Linked DNA regions of Homo sapiens. The protein of the gene in region 1 interacts with the protein of each later gene in a pairwise test. Each region holds a gene or a part of one and is shown on either strand. Other genes may lie near its edges.

What was found. Proteins that work in one complex are often made in the same cells at the same time.
Region 2: the proteins of TTC3 (region 1) and CEP290 interact in a two-hybrid assay, tested with the Homo sapiens proteins (one large-scale study listed by BioGRID and IntAct).

What each region holds. Positions count from the first base shown.
Region 1 is NC_000021.9:37,076,024-37,079,919, forward strand, and holds part of TTC3 (E3 ubiquitin-protein ligase TTC3), read left to right. Parts: intron 1-3,896. UniProt on the Homo sapiens protein: E3 ubiquitin-protein ligase which catalyzes the formation of 'Lys-48'-polyubiquitin chains. Mediates the ubiquitination and subsequent degradation of phosphorylated Akt (AKT1, AKT2 and AKT3) in the nucleus.
Region 2 is NC_000012.12:88,076,047-88,079,942, forward strand, and holds part of CEP290 (centrosomal protein of 290 kDa), read right to left. Parts: intron 3,184-3,896; coding exon 3,046-3,183; intron 1,873-3,045; coding exon 1,651-1,872; intron 1,299-1,650; coding exon 1,176-1,298; intron 1-1,175. UniProt on the Homo sapiens protein: Involved in early and late steps in cilia formation. Its association with CCP110 is required for inhibition of primary cilia formation by CCP110.

The DNA of each region.
Region 1 (3,896 bases):
CAATAATCAAAATGACCAGTATTGAATGTGCTTACTTCCAGAGGTGACTACCATCCTGAATTGTGTATATTATGCCTTGTTTTTAAAAATAATTTTATCAGATATGTATACATCCCTCAAAAATGTATTGTATGGTTTCTGTTGTTTTTGAGTGGAAAAAATCATATTGGGTATAGTTTCCTGGGACTTGCTTATTTCACTTGATGTTATGTTTCTGAGTTACTAATATTGGGTATAGATGTAAGTCATTAATTTTCACTGCTGTGTAATATTCCAAGTGTGAATATAACACAGTGTATGCATTCTTCTGTTAATGGGCATTTTGGTTGTTTCTAGGTTTTGCTGTTATGAAGTTATATACTTTTTGGTTCACAGTTGTAAGAATTTTTCTAATTTTCACACTGGGGTATATGAGCCCCAGAGGAGTAATGAAGATTTGCTAAGGAATGTGTGGGTACAAATGATGTTAATGAATCAGTTTCTAGATCATTACATTCCATAGGTACTCTTTCCTAAAAATGGTAATGCCTGAGGCCTCCTGCTAGTGCTACTTTCTTACCTTGTGTTTCTAACATTGCACTTTACATAAGACAGGCAAACCACAGGTTCTTGTGGAATCTTACTATGGCATTGCCCAAAGGGGGAAAACTCCCTTGGGGAAAACAAAGGGATTTTTTTTTTTTTTTTTTTTTTTTTTGAGTGAAGTTTTGCTCTTTTTGCCCAGGCTGGAGTGCAATGGCACGATCTCGGCTCACTGCAACCTCTGCCTCCCAAGTTCAAGTGATTCTCTTGCCTCAGCCTCTGAGTAGCTGGGATTACAGGCGCGCACCACCACACCCGGCTAATTTTGTATTTTTAGTAGAGACGGGATTTCACCATGTTGGCTAGGCACGTCTTGAACTCCTGACCTCAGGTGATCTGCCCGACTCGGCCTCCCAAAGTGCTGGGATTACAGGCCACCGCGCCTGGCCTACAAAGGGATAATTTAAAATACCACTATAGTGTTAGGGAAAGCCTCTTTTAATCCTGGCACTTCCCCATCCATTTCCTTAAGAGAGATATTTCCAATAAAGTTGCTTTTTTTTTTATGTTATCAGGGTATATTTTTTGGCCAACCATATGCTGGTAATAATTATACATTTAAAAGAATGAGATAATCAGTTTTACTTTAAAATGTTACTGTGATGTTCTAGAAATTCACCCTTTGCAATTATTTAATCTTATGGTGATATTTTTTAAATGTCATCTTAATGGGTAAAGGGTATGCAATTTTAAAAAGCACTTTTGGTGGTTTGCGAGCAAAAAAAAAAGGTTGAAATACCACCATGTTAATTTGTTCAGCAGCAAAAGAAAAAGAAAAGAGAAAGAAATACTGCCGTATCACTATAGTAAGCTGTTTGCTAGAAATGGGATTGCTAGATCAAGGGGTATGAATGATCAGCTTTACAAAATAATGTCAGATTACTTTCTGAAGGGGTTGTATCAGTTTGTACTTTGGCCAGCAGTTTTGTCTGTTTATATACTTTGATCAACAGTGTGTAAGAGTTACAGTTGATCTACAACCTCTCCAACACTTGTTATTGTCAGACTTAATATTTGCCAATGGAATGGGTATGAAATGATGCATCATTGTGGTTTTAATTTGCATTTTTTGTTATTAATGAGATTGAGCATCTTTTGTATGTTTATGAACTGTCTTTGTTTCCTTTTTATGAAATATCTAGTCATATATTTTACCCTTTGTTCTGATGAGTTGTCTTTTAAAACTGGTAACATCGATTATGTGCGTTGTAAATATCTTTTTCTGGTTTGTGGCCTGTCTTTCTACTGTTTATGGTGTATTTTGGTGAACAGAAGTTCTTAATTTTAACATAATCTGATTGGAACCTTTCTTGCCCTGGGCTTATAAAGACATTCCTCTGTTTCTTTTTAGAGGTTTTAAAATGATGTCTTCCACATTTAAGTTCATAATTTATCTGGAATTGATTTTTGTGTATGTTCTGAGATAGTGATCCACATTGATTTTTTTTTTCTCCTGTGTGGTTCTAATTATCCCTGTACCATGTATTGAATTGGCCCTCTGTTCACCAGTGGTCTGCTGTGCCATCTCTTTTACATGTTTAGTTACTACCTGCATGGGTCTGTTTTTGGCTTGCCTTTCTGTGTCACTTGTCACCTTGTCTGTCTCTGTGTTCATACCACACTGTCTTAATCATTAATACTATAGTTTTACCTGAAATCTCGGTATCTGGGGAGGACTTGAATCTCACCTATTTTTGGTCATTTGTTCTTAAGAATTAGCTTGTTACATGACATGAAAAACCCTGTAGGTATTAATTAGAATTAATTGAATCAGTTTGGGGGAGAATCGAAATCTTTAAGATTTTGATCCTTTTTATTTTTAAGAATATGGTATGTATCTCTATTTATGTAAAGTTTTAGTGTAGTTTTGTAATATTCTCCATAGAGGTCTTCCACTTTTTCATATGTTAATTCTGATGTTATTGTTTTTGTTGCTATTATAAATGGTGGTGTTCTTAAAGATTCTATCTTAACTTATTTATTGTTAGTAAATATTTTAACTTATTGTTAAATAGAAATTTAATGAATTTTTAAAAATATTGACCCTTTAGTCATCCACTTGATAAACTTACTACTTCTAATATTTTTTCTGAAATTCCTTTGTGTTTTCTGTGTGGATAATTATATCATTTGCAAATAGTGACAGTTTTAGTTCTTCTAGTTATTTTTGCTTTTAATTTATTCATTTTTTTGGTCTTAAATGTGCTGGCATACTTTATACTTACGTTCAATGGAAGTGATTAGGGTTGTTCATTAGAAGCGATTATAGTGGGCATAGAGTTCTTGTTCTCAATTTTAAAGAGAATATTTCTCAGCTGAGAATAACATTTGCTGTGAATTTTTGTAGATACCTTTGATTAAGTTAGGGAAGTCTTTTCAGTTGTCACATGCTTTTCTGCATTTGTTGAGAATATCTTGTGTCTTTTCTTCTTTAATCTGTTAAATGTAATGAATTCCGTTTTATAGATTTAAAACTGTTCATTTTCTTTTATATTCTTTCTTGAGATAAACCCAAATTGGTCTTTATAGATTATATTTTTATGAACTACTAGATTGAGTTTGCTCATATTTTATTTAGATTTTTGTGTCTGTTTATGGCTAGAATCACTTCTCATTTTTCTTTATTGGCTGTCTTATCTGACTTGGGTATTAAAGTTACACTGACTTTATACCATGAGTTAGAGAATAGTTCCTCTTTTTCTGTTCCCTGGGAGAGTTTGGATTGGAGTGATTTGTTTCTTAAAAGCTTGGTGGAACTTAACTATAAGGTCATTTGGATCTAATGTTTTCTTCTTGGAGGTTTAGTAGTAATTAGCAGTTGAACAGTCATAGGACTGTTCAGGTATTCTATTTCTTTTAGTCAGTTTTGGTAAGTTTTAGAAATTTGTCCTTTCATCAAGTTTATGGTATGGTTTTTTTTTTTTTTTTTTTTTTTTTTTTTTTTTTAAGATAGAGTCTCCCTCTGTTGCCCAGGCTGGAGTAGTGCAGTGGTGCCATCTCATTGCAACCTCTGCCTCCTGAGTTCAAGCGATTCTCCTGCCTCAGCCTCCTGAGTAGCTGGGATTACAGCCGTGCGCCACCATGCTTGGCTGATTTTTTTGTATTTTTAGTAGAGACGGAGTTTCACCATGTTGGCCAGGCTCTTCACAAACTCCTGACCTCAAGTGGTCTGCCCACCTCGGCCTCCCAAAGTGCTAGGATTACAGGTGTGAGCCACCGCTCGTGGTATGGCATTAATTCTCTTTTTAATCTCTGTTTTATTTGTATATGTGTTCCCCTTTTCTCATGTTGAATATTATTTATGTCTGACTTCT
Region 2 (3,896 bases), on another chromosome or scaffold:
AGGTTAGAAACTGGTATAGAAACACACCAGTTAGGAACAAACATACCAGTTTCTAACCTATCCCCATTTAGGGATAAGATCAGGCCTATCCCCAATTAGGGAGTTAGAAAGATGGAAATCCAAAAGATTAAGGACACTTTGATCTTACAGTTTTCACCAGCAAAGCTTCTGACAGCAAGCATGTTGTGACTCCACGCAAATAGTGTCAATAAATTACACTGACATTAATGAATTTTCATAGAAAATAATTTTGGGAGCATACTCTATTAAGAAATTTGAATTCCATTACCTATTTTCTATTCAATGCCTTTAAAGACAGAATTTTCTTTTCCATTTTCATGTGATTGAAATTATTTTATAGACATTAAATATTTTCTGGGTAAATTTTATAATAAAAATTTTCCTAACCATAGCTCCTCCATACTGATTTTCTTCAATGGCAAATATTACTGCTAACATCAACATTTCCCAGTTCACTTTCGATATTTTGAATGTTACCAACAAGTTATCTCCAATTTATTGTCCATAACAAATTTAATTACACGCATTTTAGCCAATTTTAGTTTTTTTTGGGGTTATTTCAATCAGTAATTTTTATTACAAAACAGTTTACTATGAACTATAAAATTTTAAGCAATTTCTCCCACAGAATTAATCTATGAGCAGATTGGTTACTGATTATTACTGCAAATACTGAAGATATTCCAAATAACTTTGCTATCTGAAATAACAGCCTAGTCTCCTGAAGGATTAAAAAGGACCTATTTGGGTCAAAGTGGGGTATCTTAAAATGTCTATCTTTCTGTCCCAAAAGTCAAAAGCACCAACCTGTGTAAATGATTACTTTGGAGAGAAATGATACACAGTTGAATATGTTAAGGTGTGAAGGAACTTCAGAGGTACTCTAATGTCAGAAAGATGAATGAAATTGATGTAGTAATTTCCAAATAAGAGTTACATTATAGGTATCTCCTCAAGTAGACTCTAAATTCCTACAGAACAGAAACTTAGACTTTTCTACGTTATTCAATACTGCTTATAGTCCTCAAAATTAATACAGAATTAATACAGCCAGGTCATCAAATTAAGGCAGTATATTAACTGTTAATCAGCTATGTATTTAACTTACTCTGTCACTACCTTAAGCATATAAGTCAGTATGTTTCTTCACATACCTTTTCTTTCATAGGTTTTAGGTCTACTTCCTCCACCTTTCCCTCTAATTGGTTCTCTAGTTTTTTAACTTTCCTTTGGAGTTCTTCAATTAGACTTTGTTTATTATCTGTCAGGGGTTTGCCCTAAAAAATAAAATGTAACTTTATATTTTTACAAATAAATGTAAAACAAAATAGACAGTAAATATTTCAATTATATAATAGCAACTTTCTGAAGCTATCACTGACCATACTTTCTAAATGACACTTAATACATAAGATAATCTGGTAGCTGCTTCTGCATTTTAATACAACATACTAATATGCTACTCTAGAACTATAAACACAATAGAAGTCACAAAAGAAATTAATTACATTAATCAAAGTGATTTGAAAGTCAGTTTTAACAAATACCATAGATAAAATGATAAAGTAGAAATAAACTACTACCTCTATATTGTAAATCAGACATTATCAGAGTTAAATATAAAATTACCTGTAATCCACTGGTTAGTCTTTTAATTTGCCTTTTCAGTTCATCATTCTCTTGATCAATTTCCTCTTTCTCTCTAAGTATTTTATTATAGGCTTTTTGTTTCTTTTGCAGTTCATTATTTAAGTCATTCAAATTATCAGTTAGTGAGTTTTCTCTGTTTTTACTTGTTTTAAGTGCTTCTTTCAATTTTAAAAGATTTTCATTTAAATCTTCAACTTGTGTCTAATAAGAGAAAAAGAAAGGTATTATTCATGACTCTTCAAGAAGTATCAATGATAAAAGGAACATAAAACAGAAAATATACCATTATAAGAAAAATTCAGTCTGAATTTTTAAGTACACAAGAGAAAAAAAATAACCACAAACTACATATATTTTTCCATATTCATGTCAAGTCTACCTTGAGGAAAAAAGTCGACTTTGAGAAAAAAAAAAAAAACTAGTGTAAAGCAATTCATCTTCAACAAACACCCACAAACAAAATTTTATCAAATATGCACGTTTCATTTTGGCTGAATTAATTAAACAAACAAGTATATAACAATATATATGACAACGTTTTAAACACTATGAAGCATAAGAGTAGTACAGAACAAATCTCTGACTTGAAGTAATTTCTAACCTAGTTTACAAAGATAAGATATAAAAGGGTAACTTACAATACTAGACAATATGTATGCCACTAGAAAGGAGTTCCTAGCTGTCCTATGGTGAGAATGATGGGGACACACTGTATGTTTCCATCTATAACATATTCTGGAAAAGGTGAAACTATGGAGACAGTAAAAAGATCACTGGTTGCCAGGGGTTTGGTGAGGTGCAGAGGAAGGAATGAAGAAGAGAGGCACAGAAGATTTTTAGGGCAGTGAAAATACCCTGTATAATACTATAATGATGGATACATATCATTATACATTTGTCTAAACACACAGAGTGTAAAATACCAAGAGCTAAAATAGAGGTAAACTTGGACTTTGGGTGATTATGATGTATCAATATAGGTTCATCAATTTTAACAAATGTACCACTTTCAGGGTAGGAGATATACAGGAAATCTCTGTACCTTCCTCTCAATTTTGCTGTGAACCTAAAATTGCTCTAAAAAAATAATAAAGTCTTAAAAAAAATCCTAAGTAAAATATTTCTTAAATTTAATTTCATTAGAAACAGTAGTTCATAATGGCCTATCCTTTCCTAATCCCCAAGATGATAATCAGTAAATGAGTATCATAAAGAGACTTATTGTTGAAAAATGCATGTGTGTGTCTATGTCTAGCCACCAACAGTGCATTATAAATTCCCTATTCATCAACAAAATTACTATATATCATAGTGAATTCTCTTCCAATAGGAATTATCAGAAATTTTGTTACATTAACACGTGTTGATGTTCACCTTTAGCTCTCTAGTATGTCGATCAACGATTTGTTGAACATTGAGATGGGCCTCTTTTTGAGAAGTTGCAGAAATAATACGTTCTTCAGCAGCTGCTGTCATTTCTGCCCGGAGTTCTAAAAGTGCCCGACTAAGTGCCTAAAAATTAACCAAAAAAAAAATGTAATTTTTAAAGGAAAACTGACATTTTATATGAATATATGATATAAAAAATAAACAAGCTTTATTACTTCCTACTATTTTTCTAAAATATTATGAGTTTAATGGAACATATTTCACAAATTAACAACTCAACTTTTTCAAATAAATCTTTTGTAATTACACTCAATTCTTTCCACATTGAATGTGAAAGTTCAAAATCTTAATAATGATTTTGAGAACTCAGCATTAAATCAAGCTATTACAAAAAACAGGTATGTTTTGTTTTCAAACATCCAATTTTAGATATTTATATTACTCACTTACTACATCCTTCCATATGAAATTAATTGAATTTAGGTAGACAACAAAAGGACTAGGAAAGGCTTAAAGTTTACCCATAAATTTCATAGCTAGCACAGAAAAACACCAGCATCTTCTAAAACAATTTAAATAGATCAAATCTGAGATAAACTAAAAAAAACCCTAATAAATCAGAATACACTGACCAACTCCTTCTCACAAAAACATCTCTATGACCCCCTTTTTTCATCCCTTTTTGTCATTATCATACTTCCCTCAATCCCTCAAATTGTTCAAAATTGTTCATTTGTTAAAAATAGCCTCAGTAGCATAAAATTCCAGTAGAAAAAAAGAAAATACAATGTAATATATATTATATTTTTGTAATGTACATTAAGATTTTTCCTAAC